Regions from separate parts of the Homo sapiens genome. Here regions 1, 3 and 4 are each reported to be linked to region 2. The links are microRNA targets in miRTarBase. Many come from high-throughput screens and were not tested one by one. Region 2 holds a microRNA gene; each other region holds the end of a gene's coding sequence.
Evidence for each region. The annotated mature microRNA hsa-miR-3689a-3p reads CUGGGAGGUGUGAUAUCGUGGU and lies in region 2 at 3,526-3,547, opposite strand. An mRNA with a match to its seed (bases 2 to 7 or 8) in the 3' UTR can be bound and repressed. Matches are read on the target gene's strand: a 7mer-m8 pairs with bases 2 to 8, a 7mer-A1 pairs with bases 2 to 7 and ends in A, and an 8mer does both.

Region 1: the mRNA of EXTL3 is a reported target of hsa-miR-3689a-3p. Seed matches in the 3' UTR shown: 7mer-A1 at 605-611 and 7mer-m8 at 4,999-5,005.
Region 3: miRTarBase lists MMAB as a target of hsa-miR-3689a-3p. Seed matches in the 3' UTR shown: 7mer-m8 at 1,336-1,342 and 7mer-m8 at 3,269-3,275.
Region 4: the mRNA of SCNM1 is a reported target of hsa-miR-3689a-3p. Seed matches in the 3' UTR shown: 7mer-m8 at 722-728 and 8mer at 888-895.

The regions. Positions count from the first base shown.
Region 1 is chr8:28,750,311-28,755,721 of GRCh38, forward strand. It overlaps EXTL3 (exostosin like glycosyltransferase 3), which reads left to right. Exons shown (of 7, transcript NM_001440.4): 7 at 347-5,289. The coding sequence ends at 556. Among named protein-coding and RNA genes, the nearest start is that of EXTL3, 52 kb to the left of the region's middle. RefSeq lists enhancers at 1,463-2,407, 2,408-3,350.
Region 2 is chr9:134,845,801-134,851,223 of GRCh38, forward strand. It overlaps MIR3689C (microRNA 3689c), which reads right to left and starts at 3,569; the gene lies at 3,498-3,569. It overlaps MIR3689A (microRNA 3689a), which reads right to left and starts at 3,764; the gene lies at 3,687-3,764. MIR3689D1 (microRNA 3689d-1) reads right to left here and starts at 3,882; the gene lies at 3,809-3,882. MIR3689B (microRNA 3689b) reads right to left here and starts at 4,472; the gene lies at 4,325-4,472. It also overlaps MIR3689D2, MIR3689E, MIR3689F and LOC101448202.
Region 3 is chr12:109,552,552-109,557,974 of GRCh38, reverse strand. MMAB (metabolism of cobalamin associated B) reads left to right here. Exons shown (of 9, transcript NM_052845.4): 9 at 839-4,260. The coding sequence ends at 947. Among named protein-coding and RNA genes, the nearest start is that of MMAB, 18 kb to the left of the region's middle. RefSeq lists an enhancer at 1-337.
Region 4 is chr1:151,168,611-151,173,610 of GRCh38, forward strand. SCNM1 (sodium channel modifier 1) reads left to right here. Exons shown (of 7, transcript NM_024041.4): 7 at 376-1,686. The coding sequence ends at 475. TNFAIP8L2-SCNM1 (TNFAIP8L2-SCNM1 readthrough) reads left to right here. Exons shown (of 7, transcript NR_144937.2): 7 at 376-1,686. TMOD4 (tropomodulin 4) reads right to left here. Exons shown (of 10, transcript NM_013353.3): 4 at 4,889-5,000; 5 at 3,658-3,747; 6 at 3,023-3,153; 7 at 2,823-2,930; 8 at 2,310-2,453; 9 at 1,909-2,053; 10 at 1,377-1,493. The coding sequence ends at 1,471. Among named protein-coding and RNA genes, the nearest start is that of TMOD4, 4.9 kb to the right of the region's middle.

The sequences.
Region 1 (5,411 bases), not on the chromosome of region 2:
ATTCAAAACATTGATGAAACAAACAACTCGGTACCTACCTATGGCTCTGCAACCAAGTACATACTAGGAGTAGACTTACTGAGACAGCTGACACTACACACGTTAAGGCTTTTGGCATCTGAGAAGCGTAGGCCATCTCAACAGAATACCTGACAATGTTCTGGAGACATCTGGTAGGCAGGAGGCCTGGGGCCGGGCTCTGGTTCCTGCCATGCTCTGCAGGGATGTTGCCCCTGAGGGGATCAGCGTCTTCACCATGGACATGGGAGTGTGGGATCGGCTCAGCTGCAAGGGTTCTGTCAGTATTAGCTGGGATTCCCACTCTGTCTCTCTCTCCCGTTTCCAGGTGACCTCACGGTGGACATTCCGATGCCCAGGATGCCCTCAGGCCCTGTCTCATGATGACTCCCACTTCCACGAGCGGCACAAGTGCATCAACTTCTTCGTGAAGGTGTACGGCTACATGCCCCTCCTGTACACGCAGTTCAGGGTGGATTCTGTGCTCTTCAAGACACGCCTGCCCCATGACAAGACCAAGTGCTTCAAGTTCATCTAGGGGCAGCGCACGGTCTGGGGAAGAGGATGAGCAGAGGGAGGAAGATGGCTCCCAAGGTTCCTAGGCATTGCAGGACCTTGGGCACATCTGCTGGTGGGTGGCCCAGAGCCTCTGCTGGAAGGGGCAGCAGGAGGAGTGGAAGGAAACCGCTGCCTTTATCTTGAAGTCAGCCACACTGGGCCTGGAGCCCTGGGCGGAGTCCCCGGGGTTCCCCACACAGGGCACTGACTGATAGCTTACACTGAGGACTGTGGCGACTCTGCAGAGTCACTCACACCGTTCGTACGCCCAGGACAGCTGGTTCGTGGTTTTTACATTCAATAACAACTATTATGATTATTTAAAAAGAGAAAGTTTCAGATTTGCCATTCAAGGCTTATTTATATATATGTGTGTGTATATAAATACATGCACACACTTGCATACATATATATTTTTGGCTGGGGGAGTGTGAGTTTTGCCTTTCTAAGGGAGGGACCGCGCAGGCTCCTTTGTTCTGTATTCTGGCGGAGATGGGTCCTGGCCTTGTGTCACTGGCTTATCCTTAAAGATCATCTCCCATCCTCCCCAGCGCCATCTGTGTGCAGCAACCAGAAAGGGATGAACTTGGCCCTCTTGCGGGCCTGGACAAGGTCTCTTCCTTACCCTTTCTGTTGCCAGTCAGCAACCTGTAACTCACATTCTCTTCCCAGTGAATCCCTGGGAGCGCCTGACCCTGGTGGGCTGTTCAGCTTCCTGCTGCTGGGGCCAGCGATTTTTGAGGATTTATCTTTAGGCCAGGCTTGCCTCCGTACTTATCCCTGCTCTCCCATTTCTCTCTTGTTTGAGAGAGAATGAGGAAGCAAAGAGTGAGAAAGAATAGGGGCTGAAGACGCCACTCCCAGATGGCTCTTTCTATCCTGCTCTTCTGTTGAAACACACGTGCTGTGGGCCTCAGGCGTTTCTGAAGTGCTCTTTCTTGGATTGGACAGGAGATCAGCAGCGTGCACATCTGCTGTGGTCTGAAGTGGTTTGCAGGTCAGCCTCCTCTCCCTAGTGTAGAGCAAGCCAGTGTCCTTCGAGGAACCCACCCGGCTGGCCGGGAAGTTTTACAGCAAGGCGCCTGCCTTGGGATAATTCCTTGGTGAAATTCACCTTCCCCCCGCCTCTGTCTGGAGCCCCATCCTGTGTTATCTGTGGTTTTTGGACCCCTAATGTCAGCTTGGCTGTAGGACTCCCCGAGGTTTGGTATGTGCTAGAACAATGGGAGGCTGTGATTTGCTGTGTAAGCTCACATCCAGCCTTGGAATCTAACGGGCATTCACAACCCGAGTTACCACTTTCCACTCCCTGCTTAGGATTCTGTTCCCTGGGCTGAAACTGAAATAAGCTAATTTTTTGGGTCACGGTGGCAGTAGGGGAACCTAGGAGGGTGTGAGTGGCATTTGTCAGGGATTTAGCCCATGACGTGTTTCTTGAACCCTACTTTCTGGAAGTGGAGTTGACTCTGGAAGTTTTCTAGCAACTGAACAAAAGCTCAGGTTTGTCCTGGTCATGCACATGCCTTAAGCCAGTTCCGTCTTCCCTAGACCTTGGCATCCTGTGCTTCTATTTCTTGGAATACGTTCTCCTCTGACCTGCCTGTACCACGTGGGTCCTCTTCAAGTACTGTTTTGAAGCTGGGCTCTTTTGTGTAGCTCCCACCCACCTGTAGGGCTAGCTCGGCTTAAGGGAACTCTCCCCATTGGCAAACCGGACCCGGCCGCCGCCAGGACTGTGTTTCCAAAGGTTCCCCGCCCCCAACCCCAGCATCAGCCTGTAGCTCCCCTGCTGAGGCAGTGTGGTTATGTTCCCAGCAGTGGGGGTCAGACGCCCTTCCTCAGAACTTTCTAGTTGCCCTCTACCTGACTCCTGACTTGTATTCCTTTTAGCAGTAGCCTTCTTCCCTCGGGGAGCCAAAGAGTGTGGTGTGTGGCGCTATATTGTGGCTGCTATTTCATCTGGTTTCTTTTAATGTGAGGAACTCACATACTGACTTCAGTGGGACTCGGTGAGCCGGGGCCGTCTGTGTGGTGGGACCCCCTTTAGCGGGACTCAGTGAGCTGGGGCCGTCTGTGTGGTGGAGCCAGGGCCTCTCCCTTTAGTGGAGCCAGGTTGTCGGGCCCCGAATGTCACTGGTGGATCTAAGAAGGGCTGAGTGGTCTGACACCAAAACATGCCGCAGGGAGGGCTGTGGTGCCGGTGCTTCCAACAAGGACAGCCCTCCTTGACCCTGAAAGGAACACTGGCTTGAAGGACTGCAGACAGGCTCTGAGGGGCACGCCCTCCTCAGCGAGAGGCAGCAAGGTGGCCACAGTGTCACTGGTCAGGTGCTTCTCACCACGGGAAAGCCGCCGACCTGTGACTCGCTTGAGATGGGAAAGCGGCGCCACAGACCCCGGGTCTCCTTGGCTGTCTGTGGGCCGCCCCTGGCCACCTTGTCCTGGCTCGCAGGGTGCAGGAGCGCCTCGTTCTCTGGGTGGCCGGCTTGCTGCTCCGGTTTGGGCTGTCTTACCATAACACCGTCCCAGGGCTCTGCAGGCCACTGTGAGCGCTGGCTCCCTGGGCAGTGCTCCTCCGTGTGGACTGTGCCTCAGGCCAGGGCTCACCAGCTGGGGTCCTGTCCGGAAGGATGGGATCTTTCTGGGAGCTGCGCCGGACAGAGTGGGGAGCTCCTAGTTTGTGGGGGGAAGCTTTGATATCCATGCCACGTCCATCCACCCCACCCCTTTTCGTCACGAGCACAATGGTCTTACATTGGATTTTTGTAAAAAAATAAAAATAAATGGAGACTTTAACTCAAGCAGCTTGGAGGTCTTTTGTGGTTTTCCTCAGCAAGTATGGAAGAGTGACCTGAGAGAAGGCACCTGCTTGATTGCTTGATTCCAGGTCGCCACCTGTGTATGCCAGCTGGGCCTGCTCGCAGAAGACGATGGGAGGCAGCCTGACCAGGCCCTGGTGTGGGCTGTGGACCAGAGATGGGTGAACAGACTCACACTCACATGGGCAGCCTTGCCTGTGCCCGGTTCCAGGGCAAGTCATTTTGACAAAACAGGAACTTAGGGGCTGTTGAGGTGCTTTAAGCAGGATGTGGAAGGGCATGTGGCCCATATATGCAAAGTTAATTTTTTCATGGGAATTTAAAATGCGTGTGTGTGTGTGTGTGTGTGTGTGTGTAGTGGTTGTGGGGAGCTGTGTGTGCCTGCGATCCCAGGACAGGTGAGGCCTCACTGTGAATGGCTCGATTCGGTCCATAGGTCATGCCCCTGACCTATAGGTCACTAAGGCACCTGTACCTGCACCGAGCTGACGCTCCCTGACTGCAGAGCCCCATCCTGTTGGTGCCCACAGGCCTAGATCTTGTGCTTGGCTGTGGGATCAGAGGCTTCCTCAGGAGAGGGCACTGAGCTGTGGGCTTCGGGGAGAAGGATGGAGATGGGAAAGGGGGTAAAGGCGAGGACTCCTCTCCTGGGCTCTGCAGGTGGCAGCTTTGGTCACACTGACAGTCCTAAGAATGGGTGAGACTTAACAGTCGGTGTCCCTCCTCAAGTGGGGTTCACGACTGATCAGGCAAGTTTGCAGCAGCTGATGGGTGAGATGTCATCGAGGGGCATTCCTCTTTGGGTCTGGAGTTTTGGCTGTCAAGCTCCTGTTCTTCCAGCCATCCATCTCCATGTTACGATTGTCCTGGGACCAGAGAGACTTGAGAAGGTGGCATGAGGCTGTAGAAAATGTGTCTTCCTATACACAGAGATATGATGTCTGCTTTGAGTCTATACCTGTCGAGTTGTGTCTTGGACTTACGGTCTGCCAAGGTGGTAAATGTTAGCTGTTGATGGGATCATCACTGAAGTGGAAGGCTCCACAAGGTTTACAAAATGTGTTAAGAAGAATGTTGATGGTGGTGTGTGGTGCCTAACATCTTAATCTCAGCATTTGGTGAGGCAGAAGTGGGAGGATCACATGAGGCCAGTTCAAGACCAGTCTGGGCAACATAGCAAGACCCCCATCTCTACAAAAAAATTAGAATGTTATGAAGATACTGAAAAGAAGAAAGGAGAATGTAGTGGGTAAAGGTCTGGGCCCTGGAACAGACTGGGTGCAGATCTTGGGCTGCCCATCACACTGGTGGAGAGCAAGTTATCTATTACTATTTTAGGCTCTAATCCCACCATACGGTGGCAAAAGTTGTGCCCATCTCTTAAGCATATGTTAAAAGTTAAATAATATAATATACGTAGAGTCCACTGTTTGACACAATAAAAATGAACTATTACTGGAGTAAAATAGTGTCCACTTCTTCATGGCTCTTTCTGCCTTCCGCTAGGTTTGAGCGCCAGCGCCTGGCTGAGTGCCCTGCTCACCTCCTATTAGAGCCCCCACGCTCTGTCGCCTCACCATGCTGTGTGCTGGCCACTGCTCTGCCTCCCACACCGGACTGCAGCCTCTCAAGAACACAGGAGTTCCATAGTTTTCTCATGAATGAATGCTTTGACAAAGTGAAGAGGGTCACTTAGAAATCACAGCTTAGGCAAATTGTTTTACCTTTCTTCATCTGTCTTGACGTTTATGAAAGAGTACAGGCTGGGTGCGGTGGTTCACGCCTGTAATCCCAGCACCTGGGGAGGCCAAGGCGGGTGGATCACCTGAGGTCAGGAGTTTGAGACCAGCCTGGCCAAAATGGCGAAACCCCTTCTCTACTAAAAATACAAAAATTAGCCAGGTGTGGTGGCACGTGCCTGTAATCCCAGCTACTCAGGAGGCTGAGGCAGGAGAATTGCTTGAACCCAGGAGGCGGAGGTTGCAGTGAGCTGTGATTTGCGCCATTGCACTCTAG
Region 2 (5,423 bases):
AGGCAGAACATTGGGTACAATTGTTTGATCACTGTGATAGCTCAGAGGTAGATTATGAACTCATAACTTGCAACCCTTGGGGAGGAGGCTTGACATGAAATGATGGTGGGCAGGCTGGATGCCTGAATTCCATGTGGCAAGGTACCACGTGGCAGACCAGCTCTGGAAAGAGCCAGGAATGAAAGGAAACGGCCCACGAATCAAGGATGCGCAGAGTTGGAAGAGGCAACCGTTTCCCAACATCAACTGTTTAAAGACCACATTGAGAGACGCCTTGAGGGACAAACGCCAGTTAAAACTCAGTCGTCATGAATTTGAGCAGCCCACCCCTTTCTTAAAATCCTGGAGTAGATTAGGATGGCGCCTAATAAATGCATTTGAGTTGGGAAAGCGACTCCGGCAATGGACGCTCACAGTCGTCAAAGGTTGATGGGTCTGAAGGTCCTTGCCATCGAATCCAGAAGAGGAGAGAGAGCAAGGCAGGTGGGCGGACAGTCGGCGTGGTGCCTGCTGGTGGAGCGGCCAGAAATGCACAGGTGGGCAGCTGATCTGTCCTCCGGAGAGGCATCCTGCAGAGGGGCCCCAGCCTGGTCTGGAGGAGTCAGTGGCTCAGACTCACAATGACCCTTTGACCATCCCAGGCAGCAGGAGGCTTGAGGTCCACTCGGCCGGTGGCTGAGCCATGGCACAGTTGTGGCCCAGAGTTGTGGGACTCCCCTCGCACCCGTCATGCAAGGGGACTCCCACGATTTCTCGGGGTTGTAGGTGACAGCTCTGGGAAGTTTCCTGGGGAGAAGGAACCCTGGAGGGAGGGTGCATGCCCCCAGTCTGCCTTCCTTGCCTTCCTCCTCCCACTGGCCCCAAGGAGTTCTGCCACCACATCCATTCATTCATCTGTTCATCCATCCATTCATCTATCCATCCATTCACCCTTTCATCCATTCATCTATCTATCCATTCATCTATTCATCATTTATCCATCCATTCATCCATCCATCCATCCATTCATCCATTCACCCTTTCATTCATCCATTCATTCATCCATTCATCCATCTATTAATCTATTCATCATTTATCCATCCATCCATCCACACATTCGTTCACCCTTTCATTCATCTGTTCATCCATTCATTCATTCATCCATCCATTCATCCATCTATTCATCATTTATCTGTCCATCCATCTATCCATCCATTCATCTATCCATCCATCCATCTATTCATCATTTATCCATCCATCCATCCATCCATCCATCCATCCATCCATCCACTCTTTCATTCATCCATTCATTCCCCCATTCCTTCAGTGGCAGTTCATTGACCACCTGCTGTGTGCCAGGCGGGAGCAGCAGGGGAGAACCCACCCTCAAGGAGATGCCACTCCAGGGGACACGGGCTGACCAAGACCCACAAGGCAGGGGTAAGGTGTGCCCAGAGGAATGAGACCTGAGGAAATGTAAAGGGGAGGAGACAATGTGCATGTGTGTGGTTGTGTGTGTGTGGGGGGGGTGATGTGCATGTGTGTATGGCACGTGTGTGCATGTGCTATGTGGTGTATTTTGCATGTGCTATTTGTGTTTATGTGAAGTGTATGTGTGTTGTGTGTGTACCTGTGTGTGTGGTGTGCCTGTGTGGTGTGTGTGTGTGCCTGTGGGGAGCTGTGCCTGTGTATGTGGTGTGTGTGCCTGTGTGTGTGGTGTGTGTGGTGTGTGTGTGTGTGGTGTATGCCTGTGTGTGGAGGTGGTGTTTGTGCATGTGCCTGTGTGGTGTGTGTGCTGGCGTGTGTATGGTATATGTGTGCGTGCCTGTGGGGAATGTGCCTGTGTGTGTGGTGTGTGCTGCATGTGTATAGTGTGCATGCCTGTGTGTGTGGTTTGTGCTGTGTCTGTATAGTGTGTGTGTGGGTGTGGTGTGTGTGCCTGTGTGTATGGGGTGTGTAGTGTGTGTGGGGTGGGGATTGAAGTGCTCTCCTGGGTGACCAGGGCCACTGGGAAGGTTCTCTCTGCCTGGAGCCCAGCGGGCAGGAAGGGCTTTGCAGGAGAGGGAACAGCAGGGCAGAGGCCAGAGGGAGTGGGGAGAGGAAGGGGAAGTGGGAGGGGGCTGGTGTGGCCTGAGCAGAGATGGGGAGGGAAGCCACACGGGGCAGTAACCCAGACGCAGGCTGGGGGCGGTGCAGACCCATGAGAGTGGGTCACACTCCGGCTCCAGGTGTTTCAAAGATGGGGTTGATGGGATTTGCTGAGAAGAGGAGGTCGAAAGTGAGACGAGAGAATTCCAGGAGATGCTCAGCCACAGGCATGACCCCCACAGTGCCGCAGGAGCACACACACACGCGCACACACGTTTACCCACTGACAGCTGTGGCCTGGTGAGACCAGGCTGAGGACAGCTGCCTCAGCGACCCAGGCTCAGATGCCACCAGTGCCCCATGTGGCCTCGGGGAATCTGCTGCTCAGAGCTCCTGTCTGCCCATTTGCACATGGGACCCATGAATGGAGGAGGCACTCTGGCCATGTGGCCAGAGGCCCCGCTCCTGTCCTGCAGATGTCTTGGTGACGAAACCCGATCCATGCATGTGGAGGAAGGTGGGGGCATCCCTGGAGCTGGCCTGTGCCAGGCCAAAGTGCTCCTTTGAGCTGCCCAGGGCTGTCCTAGTGAGTGTCCTCAGGCTCTGGCCACCCAGGAGGGCCAGGGGCGTCTGCATTCGGGAGTGGGTTGGAGAAGGGGACGATGGGAGAGCAGGAAGCTTTTGCAACTGCTCCAGGGCCATTGGGAGGGTGCAATTGGCTGACACCCGGAACTTCATTGATGCTTACCCCACGTGCCCTCTGTGTGGGTCCCGCTCCCAGTGCGGACACCACCTCCTAGCTCTCACTAGCTCATGCAGGCCTCTGGGGCCCTCCTGAATCCACACCTCCCAGGGCTGGGTCCTGGTTGTTCCCCAATGGGGAGCTGTGCCTCTCTATCACCAGCAGGCATGTGATCACACCTCCCAGGAAGCACAGGATCACACCTCCCAGGAAGCACGGGATCACACCTCCCAGGAAGCACGGGATCACACCTCCCAGGAAGCACGGGATCACACCTCCCAGGAAGCACGGGATCACACCTCCCAGGGAGCACGGGATCACACCTCCCAGGGAGCACGGGATCACACCTCCCAGGGAGCATGGGATCACACCTCCCAGGGAGCACGGGATCACACCTCCCAGGGAGCACTGGATCACACCTCCCAGGGAGCACCGGATCACACCTCCCAGGAACCACGATATCACACCTCCCAGGAAGCACAGGATCACACCTCCCAGGAAGCACAGGATCACACCTCCCAGGGAGCACCGGATCACACCTCCCAGGGAGCACCAGATCACACCTCCCAGGAACCACGATATCACACCTCCCAGGAAGCACAGGATCACACCTCCCAGGAAGCACAGGATCACACCTCCCAGGAAGCACAGGATCACACCTCCCAGGAAGCACGGGATCACACCTCCCAGGAACCACAATATCACACCTCCCAGGAACCACGATATCACACCTCCCAGGAACCACGATATCACACCTCCCAGGAACCACGATATCACACCTCCCAGGAAGCACGGGATCAGACCTCCTGGGGAGCACGGGATCACACCTCCCAGGAAGCACAGTATCACACCTCCCAGGAAGCACGGGATCACACCTCCCAGGAACCACGATATCACACCTCCCAGGAAGCACAGGATCACACCTCCCAGGAACCATGATATCACACCTCCCAGGGAGCACAGGATCAGACCCCCCAGGGAGCACAGGATCACACCTCTCAGGAAGAACAGGATCACACCTCCCGGGGAAGACGATAGCACACCTCCCAGCGAGTGTGAGATCACACCTCCCAGTGAGCGTGGGATCACACCTCCCAGGAAGCATGGTATCACACCTCCCAGGAAGCACAGGATCACACCTCCCAGGAAGCACGGGATCACACCTCCCAGGAAGCATGGGATCACACCTCCCAGGGAGCACCAGATCACACCTCCCAGGAACCACGATATCACACCTCCCAGGAACCACGATATCACACCTCCCAGGAACCACGATATCACACCTCCCAGGAACCACGATATCACACCTTCCAGGAAGCACAGGATCACACCTCCCAGGAAGCACGGGATCACACCTCCCAGGAACCACGATATCACACCTCCCAGGAACCACGATATCACACCTCCCAGGAAGCACAGGATCAGACCTCACAGGGAGCACGGGATCACACCTCCCAGGGAGCACGGGATCACACCTCCCAGGGAGCACGGGATCACACCTCCCAGGGAGCACGGGATCACACCTCCCAGGGAGCACGGGATCACACCTCCCAGGAACCACAATATCACACCTCCCAGGAAGCACGGGATCACACCTCCCAGGAACCATGATATCACACCTCCCAGGAAGCACAGGATCAGACCCCCCAGGGAGCACAGGATCACACCGCTCAGGAAGAACAGGATCACACCTCCCAGGGAAGACGATAGCACACCTCCCAGCGAGTGTGAGATCACACCTCCCAGTGAGCGTGGGATCACACCTCCCAGGAAGCATGGTATCACACCTCCCAGGAAGCACAGGATCACACCTCCCAGGAAGCATGGGATCACACCTCCCAGGAAGCACAGGATCACACCTCCCAGGAAGCACGGGATCACACCTCCCAGGAACCACGATATCATACCTCCCAGGAACCATGATATCATACCTCCCAGGAAGCACGGGATCAGACCTCCCAGGGAGCACGGGATCACACCTCCCAGGAACCACGATATCATACCTCCCAGGAACCATGATATCACACCTCCCAGGAGGCATGGGATCAGACCTCCCAGGGAGCACGGGATCACACCTCCCAGGAAAGCACGGGATCAGACCTCCCAGGGAGCACGGGATCACACCTCCCAGCGAGTGTGGGATCACACCTCCCAGGAAGCACAGCATCACACGTCCCAGGAAGCACGATATCACACCTCCCAGGAAGCACAGGATCACACCTTCCAGGAAGCACAGGATCACACCTCCCAGGAACCACGATATCACACCTCCCAGGAAGCACAGGATACACCTCCCAGGGAGCACAGGATCATACCTCCCAGGGAGCACAGGATACACCTCCCAGGGAGCACGGGATCACACCTCCCAGGGAGCACGGGATCACACCTCCCAGGGGAGCCACAGGTTCTTAATGGGACAAGGCCAGCGCTTAGCAGAAGTGTTCCTGGTGTTTCTTGGTGTCTGCCCATCAGTGGCCCCCACCTGGCTGCCTGTTGAAGTCATCCGGGGAGCCCCCTAAAAGTACGCATTCTAGGTCCACCTCTAGGCCTTCTAAGCCAAGCCACCCGCGGGGAGGTGGTGGTAGAACCTGCAGTGTGTGAGGTCCCACACCCC
Region 3 (5,423 bases), not on the chromosome of region 2:
AAGGCAGAAGAGCTGACAGCGTAAGCGCCTTCTGGGGCCCGTGGCGTCGTCCTCTAGTTCCCTCCACTGCTGCCCCTGCAGAAGGCCTCATGCACAGATGACCATTGCTGTTGGTTCAAAGGAGGAGGCGGGAAAGGGGCTGGGCTCTGGTCTCTAGAGTGCTCCAGCCTGTGCTTCTCACCCGGTACCTTTGGCGATGTTTGGAGGCATTACTAGTTGTCACACTGGGTGCAGGGGTGCCACTGGCACCTGGTGGGTGGAGACCAAAGGTGCTGTCAGCATCCTACACTGCACAGGATGCACAGGACAGCCCCGAACACACAGAATGATCCAGAATGTCAGTAGGGCCTAGTCCAGCAGTGTCAGCATCAGCCAGGGCAGGAACTAGACCTGCAGAGCCCCGGGCCCAGCCCAGCCCAGCCCTCCTGAGTCAGAATCTGCACGTCGCTGAGATCCCCTGGTGATGCCTGTGCACACTGTAGTTTGGGAAACACCCAAACTGATCACGCACCTGAGCCCTGATCACTCAAAGGTGCAAAAACCGGCTCAGAGAGGAGTCCAAAGTCATCTGCCCCATGGGGTAGGGCCGGGGCAATGGCCTCATCCTGCAGGAATGGCCCCAGCCTTGACACTGGAGTAGAGTCCTTGGCATTCACAGCAGCTGGCCTCGTGTGCCATCCATTAAGTGCAAGATGGCTGGGCCCCCGCCCTCCCTGCACAATGTGCCCAGAGTGCGTCATTTATATCTCCTCCTTGTAGGCGGATATGGGAAGACCCAGTTAGCGTTGATCTCTCATTTCAAACCATTCTGTTTGCTTCTCTCTCTCTGCCCCTCCAGACTCAGTGACTATCTCTTCACGCTAGCCAGATATGCAGCCATGAAGGAGGGGAATCAAGAGAAAATATACATGAAAAATGACCCATCGGCCGAGTCTGAGGGACTCTGAAATCACAGAAAGTGGGAGCTTGGAGGATCCCTCCATGGCGATGGCCGTGGAGAGAGGAGCTTGCCCTTCTGGGGTCCTGGTTCCTGAAGAGCTCACCCAGAGAGGCTCAAAGCAGCCTTTTGTCCCAGCTCAGCTTTGATCTACACCTCTTGCCACCTTCCTCAAGGGACTGTGACCCTTTGGGGATTCTGTCCCTGACCCTGCTTCCCCAAGCTCTCCTGGGTCTTGGAGGGATGTGGGAATGAATTGGCATTGCAGGAAAGACAGGTAAAGTGATTGCTGCAATGAGAAGGAGCTGTGCGGAAAAGGAATAAAAGTTGGAAAGGCTGGAGCCGTGTGTGTGTGTGTGTGTGTGTGTGTGTGTGTGTGTGTGTGTGTGAGAGAGAGCCCTCCCACTGCCAGCTCAGGTTGTTCACAGATTTGGAATGGGACCAGAGGCCCTTGAAAATGTAATTGTGATTTACCTGTGCCAAAGGTGCTTTAAATGTCACATTTGTAAAGGGGAAGGCGGACAAGATTTGGAAGTTTAGTCACCTCTGAGCCACCCATCACCGCCAAAGTGTGGGGGAAGGATAGCTGCAGATTGACAGGCGAGGCTCAGAAACTCCTGGCTTAGATTGAAGTGTGTGTGATGGGGGTGCAGCTTAGAGGACCCCCTCTGAAAGGGATGGAGATGCTGATGAGAACAACACTACCACTTGAAGGTGAACATTCCCTGTCTGGTTGGACTGAGTCAAGGGTCTGCGGTGCAGCATCTTCAGCTTGAGAAAATGAGGTTGTCAGTTTCCAGCAAGGCTGACATCCACCAGACTGATTTCTCCGATGTTGCACTTGGCTGGCTTATGCCTCTGAGATCGGTGCCACGGCTGTATTTATTTCAGTTGTCACTGCTGCTCCCTCCTGCTATGAAACGACACTGCCAGTGCCAGCAGTGTCCTTGGGAAAGGCAATATTTATGAAGGGCAGAAGAGGCAGCCCCAAGAACCTAAAGACTGCAGGCTGCTAATTGCAGGAAATGACTTTGGAAGGGCAGGCTCTTGTCCAGTTTCAGGGCTGAAATGCCTGGCGAACTCCATTCAGCCATCACATATTGACTGAGTGGCTGCTTAGCATGGGCCACCGCGCTAGGCTCGGGACAGCTGGTCTTTCCGGCCATCTTTCTTGCTGGCAAGTCAGCAAACATTACCTTCTTAGTCACGTGCATATTTTTGCCTTCATTCTTACCACCTGGCCTGCAAAGTTTGCAGGAGGGCCAGGTATATTCACTTGTGTCTTCTGGGTCCTTTCATTGCTGACAGGCTGTGATGGCCCTCTTGAGCCTTGGGCAGGGTGGGTGAGGTGCAGATGACCAGGAGTGTGTGAATGCCTTCCAGGAGGTGGCTTTGTTCCGTGCCTCCCTGCCCCCATCGTCACTACCAGGTCTGGTACGGAGTCGGTGCTCAGTGTTTGCAAAACAGAGCTGAAAACGGACTTTGGGAGGCCGAGGCAGGCAGATCACCTGAGGTCAGGAGTTTGAGACCAGCCTGGTCAACATGGTAAAACCCCATTTCTGCTAAAAAAAAAAAAAAAAAAAAAAAATTAGCTGGGCATGGTGGCGGGTGCCTGTAATCCCAGCTATTCAGGAGGCTGAGGCAGGAGAATCACTTGAACCTACGAGGCAGAGGCTGCAGTGAGCCAAGATCGTGACACGACACTCCAGCCTGGCTGATAGAGTGAGACTCCGTCACAAAAAAAAAAAAAAAAAAAAAAAAACCCTGAAAACGCAATCACTAAGGCTCGGTCAGGGAGTATGTTCAAAGAGCTTGCAGCGAATCACTCAATTCTGTCTACACCTCAAAATCTCAAAATCTTCCTGGAATATATATATATATATAAAATAACACAGCAGCCCTGCATGCCTAGCCATGGGAAAGCACAGCCTCCAAAGGATAAGGAAAGCTTTTTGAGTAAATACAACATCCTAAAGTGACAATCTTTGAAACAAGGCCGTTCACCTGTTGCCAAGTCCTGTCCTTCCAGGACCGGGTGTCACAGCCTGGATGTTAACAGTCGCGTTCTCAGACCCCCGCCTCTGTATCTGTCTCCCGGTTCACCAGCAAACACTTCTCTGAGAAACCACCTGGGTGCAGGGCAGATGCCACCACTCAGCAGGTGTTTCTCTCCTGTGCTACCAACCTGGGAAAAATGGAGAAAGCTTGCTTTGGGGGCTGGAAGGATGGGGTGTTTAAAACATTTGCTCTTCTGCAGTGCCTTTCAAAAGCTCTATCAAGAGCCCGAGGCAAAAGAAAAGATGTGTACCCCTCTGTACACTGAGCAAATGTCCTCCCATATTTTGAACCAGGTGGGAAAAGTTAATGAAAGCCCTACAGTCAGGAAATGTGACTGCGAAGCCCCCGCTGCCCCAGTGTTTGCACACCACTGGCAACTCTCAGAAACAATCAGTCCCATTGCACGGGAACACGGGGTTTTGAAACAAACAGCAGCCTGTTTTTATTTAAAGTCGTGATCCCTTGCTTATCGTAGATTTTTTTCATAATTTGATTTTGGAAAATATTGCACACAAATACTACTCGATCCCTGAGTTTGTGGGCACTTCCTTACATTTTGCACCCATGAAAATGCCTCCTCCGCCTCCAGGTCAGGCTCCCTGGAATGGGGTGTTTAGTGTCATTTCCAGAGACAAGCTGGCAGTTGGCTCTTGTGTCAGAGAGAAGCCCACAGTCACAGTGACACCAGCCCGCACTGTGGAAGGGCTTGCTATGTGCAGTGCCCTGAGCCAAGTGTTCCACAGACATTATCTCATTTGAACCCCATAGCAGCCCTGGAAGGAGGCATTGGGTGGGGAACCAAGTTGTCCTGGGGAGTCAGTGCCAAGATGTGAGCCCCGGACGCGGCCTCGTCACTCACAGCCCCGTGCTCCTCAGCTCCCACCCACTGCCGCTTGACAGTCGTTTTAATCACTACCTGGGCTGTGGCGAACAATGCCAGGCTCTGATAGATCCTGCTGTCTCATTTCTCAACCTAGTTTCCCTTAACTAATATTTCATGGCTATCGTTAATGTGCGTTTTTCATCGAGTAATTTCCACAGCCCGAACTTGTAACACATCCCAATGACAAACGTCCCCAGTTCGGAAGCCCCCGTCAGTGGCAATGTCACCCTTGCTGCTGCCTCGACACCTTCCGACAGCCCATTCAGTTTTATGATCGCCCTGTCCCAGTGATCACTACTGAACCTTTAAGAATCCAGATGCATTTCAAGTTTAATTGAATAAAATTCTTTGTATAATAAATTCCGCATGAATGCTACATAAATCAGTGCCTGGAAGGATTTGTGGCTCATCCCTCCCCTCTGGCGGGGCCTGAGAATCTTCTGGCAATACTGACACAAGCTGGAATAAATGCATCTTTGCAGTCAGTCCAGCTAGAGGCAGGCGGCACAGTTTTAACTTGCCTTGGCCTATTGCTTTTCTTCTCTCAGAGTCCTCCTGGAAGATAGTGCTAAAGTCCAACAGAGGCAGGGACAGGCAGATTGCGGAGACCTAGAAACTTTGGGGACATCCCTCGTGTTCTCCCATTCCACAGAATCAGAAACTTCTCAAGCTGTGGTTTGTCACCTTTGGAATGCACACACACATATTCACAAGTTTGCATCCAGTCATAGGAAGTCCATGGAACCTCCCGGTAAGAATCCCTTTTCTAAGAGAACCCATGCGACCCTCTTCGGGAGCTAAGTCAGGATTCCCAAGGCTGCCTTCAGCAGCCTGTTTCAGGGTCAGATAGCTCCAGCCTGGAAGGGTGAGAAGATGCACTTGGGGCTGGCTGGGAGAGGCTGCTGGGTGACCTTTGATGCTTGTAGGGTTGTGGGGTGCAGGGAAGGACTGTCAAACAGCTGGCTTGGGCACTGGCCCCAGGCAGGCTCAGGTTCAAGGCCAGCTTTGTCACCTCCTGCCTTGGTGACTGGGCAAGTCATTCCATCTGTCTCGGTCTTGCTCCTCCACCTATAGAATGGGAATCATAACATCCACCCCATGGGTCACTGGGATTGTTTAATGAGGTAATACTTAAAAGAGTAATATTGCCCCCTGGCAAATATTAGCTCCTGTTATTACAGTTGTTTGCTATTACTACTACTATTTGAATTCAGATTCCATCTTTGTCACTTCCAGCATCTCCTTAAGCAAATGGTTTAACCACTCAAAGCCTCTTTATCTTTTATAATAGGATAATAATACCAATTTCCAAGAGTTCAGAAATAAGTCCACAGGCCCCAGACATGATAGCAGCTCCAAAAAATAGCTATTGTTGTTCAATCATATTTGACCCTTTTCAAAGCACGTTCTAAAAGCTCATCCCCAGGTGACGCTGAGGACAGCATGGCAGCACCTCTGGCCCCTCAGGCTTGCTGAGTGGGTGGGGGAGACAGGTGGCCTCCAGAGGTGGCCAGGCACAATCAGATGAGAAGATGGGGATGTGGC
Region 4 (5,000 bases), not on the chromosome of region 2:
TTGGTCAGGCTGGCCTCGAACTCCTGACCTCAGGTGATCCACCTGCCTCAGTTTCCTAAAGTGTTGGGATTACAGGTGTGAGCCACCGCACCCGGACTCCCATTGTTGTTTTCCATCTTTGGTTTCGTTTTGTTTTAGCCACCCAACTTACATGGCTCTCAATTTTTTCTCACTGCTAACTTTTTTTTTTTTTTTTTTTTTTTTTTTGGTAGAGACAGGGTTTCACTATGTTGGTCAGGCTGGTCTCGAACTCCTGACCTCAAGTGATCCACCTGCCTCGGCCTCCCAGAGTGCTGGGATTACTGGTGTGAGCTCACCACTAACTTCTTAATAAGCCTCTTTCCTGATCGATGCTATTTTCTCTGATGTTTCCAGCTCTGGATGGATCCCAGATGGACGAGGTCGATGGGTAAAAGATGAAAATGTTGAGTTTGACTCTGATGAGGAGGAACCACCTGATCTCCCCTTGGACTGATACCCTTTTCCCATTCATTCACAAATAAATTACAATGGGTGCTGAGAACTTAACTTTCCTTAAGTCTGGTTCCTTGTTGGATCTCAGGATTTCAGATCTGTTCATTCTCATTCCAACTACTCCTTGCCTGCAAGGTACACAGCTCTCCACACTCCTTTTTTTTTTTTTTTTTTTTTTGAGGCAGAGTCTCGCTCTATCGCCCAGGCTGGAGTGCAGTGGCACGATCTCGGCTCACTGCAAGCTCTGCCTCCCAGGTTCACGCCTTTCTCCTGCCTCAGCCTCCTGAGTAGCTGGGACTACAGGCGCCCGCCACCATGCCCAGCTAATTTTTTGTATTTTTAGTAGAGACGGGGTTTCACTGTGTTAGCCAGGATGGTCTCGATCTCCTGACCTCGTGATCCGCCCACCTCGGCCTCCCAAAGTGCTGGGATTACAGGCATGAGCCACCGCACCCAGCCACGGCTATCCATACTTCTAACCCCTCCCCCACCTCCTACCAAAGCCATGCCAAGCGTCAGCTGCATCAGCCTGGTGCCCTATTAATAAGACTGTCAAAAAGAGGTCTTTGCCCTTCATGTTGTCTGCCTGCTTCTCCACTACCACTCAAAGTCCTTTCCCCCTTCAAATCACATAAGGACTGCAGGTAGGCACTAGGGGGACCTGGCCACATCTGGAAACAGGGCTGTGGCTAAGTTCCCTGTGAAAGTAGAAGAGTCAAAAGGCATTGGCAGGGTTATGGGGAACACCAAGGGAGGGAACACCCCCACCTCCTCCTAGTAACCTGAACCTCCCTGCCTGCTGATCCCCAGAGTATAAATAATCCCCTGGTGAACTGGCAGTAACCCTTGGGGGTTAGCGCCAAGATTCTCACCCCAAAGCCCAAGGAAGGAGGCAGGCAAAATGGATAGAAGGGCTTTTATTTACAGGAAAGGAGGACAGATGAGGATTTAAGTGTCCAGTGCTCCCAGCGCTAGTTGGTAAAGGGAAATGCAGTGTTATCTCTTCTTTTGCTGGCGACCTGTAAAGGAGCAATATTAAACATAAGTGTTTGTTCCAGCTCCTGCTTTCTGCAAAGGCACTCTTCTCCTTTCCAGTCCCTTAGCCAAACTCATAAATTGGTAGTGTCTTAGGCCACCTTACAGGCCCATCCCACATTAACAAAACAAAACAAGAAACCACACCACAAATAAAATTACGATACCTCTAAACAAGTATGATTATCTCTGGCATCCTTTCTACCTCTCTACTGGTCCATATTTGGGGCAGGGGGAGTTTTCTGTTTACTTTCTGATCACTCTTGGGATTTGAAATTCTCATATGAATAGCTCTTTGGTAGCACCCTGGGCTGTTAGTCATTAGGTCTGCTTTCAGGAGGATCCACCAATTTCTGCACTTCCCTGACCACTCCACACATCATGTCTGCAGTTACTCACGTAGTTCATTGTTTCGGGTCATGGCCTGGGCTGCCCGAGCTCGTGGCCCCTGCTGTGTAAAGTGGTAGCCAAAGCGGACAATAGAGGGACACTGCTCTAGCACGGTGGCCATCTCCATCTCCACTGCATCACCAGGCCACTGGCGCTGGGGGAGGGAGAGGCAAAAGCTGACAGTCACCCTCTCTGGGCTGTTTACCATCCCACATCACAGACCCCTTTGGGAGGTCAAAGAAGCTTGTTTCTCCACAGTGGGTGAAGAGAGATGCTGACTTGGCTTCCCTCACAGAGACAATGAAGAGGAGAATTCAAGCAAGATTAAGTAAGATAGCTGCCCCACTGGCTGGCTCAGGGAGGAGACTCAATGAGACTGAATGCTAACATCAGGGGAAGGGAATGCTGACCTGATTGTCTACACGGAGCTCAGTGAGTGTGGCATTTTCCCGAACTGCCTTCAGCACAGCCATGAGTCCTGTGCTGCTAATGAAGTTGGATTCGATGTTTAGGCTCTGGAGGCTACGATTCTCACGCAACATGTCAGCCACTGCCTGGGTAGTAGGGACTTGGGTTAGGATTAGGGAACAGTTTCACAGATGACTGAGGAAAGAAAGAACAGGAGCAAGAGGGAAACACAGCTCTTTGAGAAGAGTCTTTCAGGTGCTGTAAATGGAGCTAGAGGGATACAGAAAGCAGGGCGGATAGCAGGGGAAAGCAGGGAGATGAATGTGCAGTGGGACTAGGGGTGTTAGAGAGAGTAGAGAGTTATGAGCCATAGCACTGAAGGTAGGAGTCTCCATGAGGGCTGCCCTAAGAAGGCATGATGAGAATAGCACTCCCTAGCAAAACCCTTTATGACAGCCATGCAACAGGTGCATGTAAGATGTGGGGAGAGGGCTGGGGATGTCAACTAGCCTTACATTGGCAATGGGGTCACCACTCCTCGTGGCTACCAGACTGAAGCTCCGCACATAGGTATTTGCCTTCATTGCCTCACACAGCTCACTTAGCATGGGTATTGGGATGTCCTATCGGAGGGGAATAGGAGATGGTGGGCTAAGGGACTCTCGGATGTCAGTGGTTATCCGGTGTTATGGTTTGGAGGATGCAAGTCAAATACCTGTATATTATTCAAGTTCACCTCCTCCAGCTCCTTGTCATTGCTTCGGACCCTCTTTAGTATCTCCTCAATGTTTGTGGGATTTGGGGGTTCATCCGGCACTGGCTTATACTTGTCAGGCTGTACCACACCTGGTGAATGAGGGCAGGAAGGGAACCCCAACATGTTCCCCATAATCTCCTCCCCATTGGTTTTCTTTTCTTTTCTTTTTTTTTTTTTTTGAGATGGAGTCTCGCTCTATCCACCTAGGCTGGAATGCAGTGGCACAATCTCAACTCACAGCAGCCTTGACCTCCCGGGTTCAAGAAATTCTTGTGCCTCTGCTTCCCAAGTATAATATCTGGGATTACAGGCATGCAACCAGCTAATTTTTGTAGTTTTAGTAGAGACAAGGTTTCACTATGTTGGCCAGGCTGGTCTTGAACTCCTGACCTCAGGTGATCCACCTGCCTCGGCCTCCCTAAATGCTGGGATTACAGGCATGAGCCACCTCACCTGGCACTCCACAGGTTTTCTTATCACTCATGCAGCATGTCCTCTCCCAGAATCATCAATTTCACCCTTTTCTACCTTCTCCCAGACACTAGGACTGCCTGCCCAGAGCCCTGGGGACCATGCTCCCCAAACACACTCACTGCTAATGCCTTCAGTGTTGCAGATTTCTCCACTGCAGAGGGCATCATAGTATTGCTTGTTACTCATCAGTGTGTACATGTCCAGAATTGCTGGAGAGGGTAAGAAGAGGAGTCACAGGGAATGAGAAGGAACCTGTTCCAAGCCTCCCTCCTACCTATTTCTGAATCTGTTGCATTTGTAAAGCCTGACCACTTACACTTTGCCAAAGAAGTTTCCCACCCTCTTTCAGCCCCAGGGGTCCTTTCCATAAACTTCTTAAGGCAGTAGTTTCTAAAACATTGAGAAAGGGCTAAGGGAAGGTCCCTTATGAGCCACTAGAGGATAAAGGAGTCTGTAGAGACTCTCCTCTTTCAGCCAGAATGGTTCCACTTTTTTTCCCCCCGAGACGGAGTCTCACTCTGTCCCCCAGGCTGGAGTGCAGTGGTGCGATCTTGGCTCACTGCCACCTCCACCTCCCGGGTTCAAGCAATTCTTCTGCCTCAGCCTCCCAAGTAACTGGGATTACAGGTGCATGCTGCCATGCCTGGCTAATTTTTTTTGTTGTTGTTTTTGTTTTTGTTTTTTGTTTTTTGAGACGGAGTCTCGCTCTGTTGCCCAGGCTGGAGTGCAGTGGCACTATCTTGGCTCACTGCAAGCTCGGCCTCCTGGGTTCACACCATTCTCCTGCCTCAGCCTCCCGAGTAGCTGGGACTACAGGCGCCCACCACCACACCCAGCTAATTTTTTGTATTTTTAGTAGTGACGGGGTTTCACCGTGTTAGCCAGGATGTTCTCGATCTCCTGACCTCGTGATCCACCCGCCTCGGCCTCCCAAAGTGTTGGGATTACAGGTGTGAGCCACCGCACCCGGCCAGTTTTTTGTATTTTAGTAGAGACGGGGTTTCACTATGTTGCCCAGGCTGGTCTTGAACTCCCGAGCTCAGGCAATCCTGAGTGCTCCCAAGTGCACTCAGGCCTCCCAAGTGCTGAGGTTACAGGTGTGAGTCATGGTGCCTGGCCCAATGATTCCACTTTTATTTGCTCTTACAATCCCTGTAAAATTGCTCTTGAGGTGTTATTAAATTTAAAAATGAATAAATATATAAACAAACAAGAAAAGCTTGAAACTACTGCTTGACGCTTTCTTAGACATCCACATTCTGGTTGAGGGCCTTCCTCACTAGTCCCATGTCATGGCTAGAATCCACCTGCCCCTGATCCTCTCACCCTCAACTTCCCACAGCTACCCACCTGCAATGTCACACATTTCAGCATCTGTGGCATGTGCCAGTGCCTCCTCCAGCTCAGGCTCCAGGGTGATCTGCTCCTCTGCTGGGATTTCCCTCTTGGGCTGAATATAGGG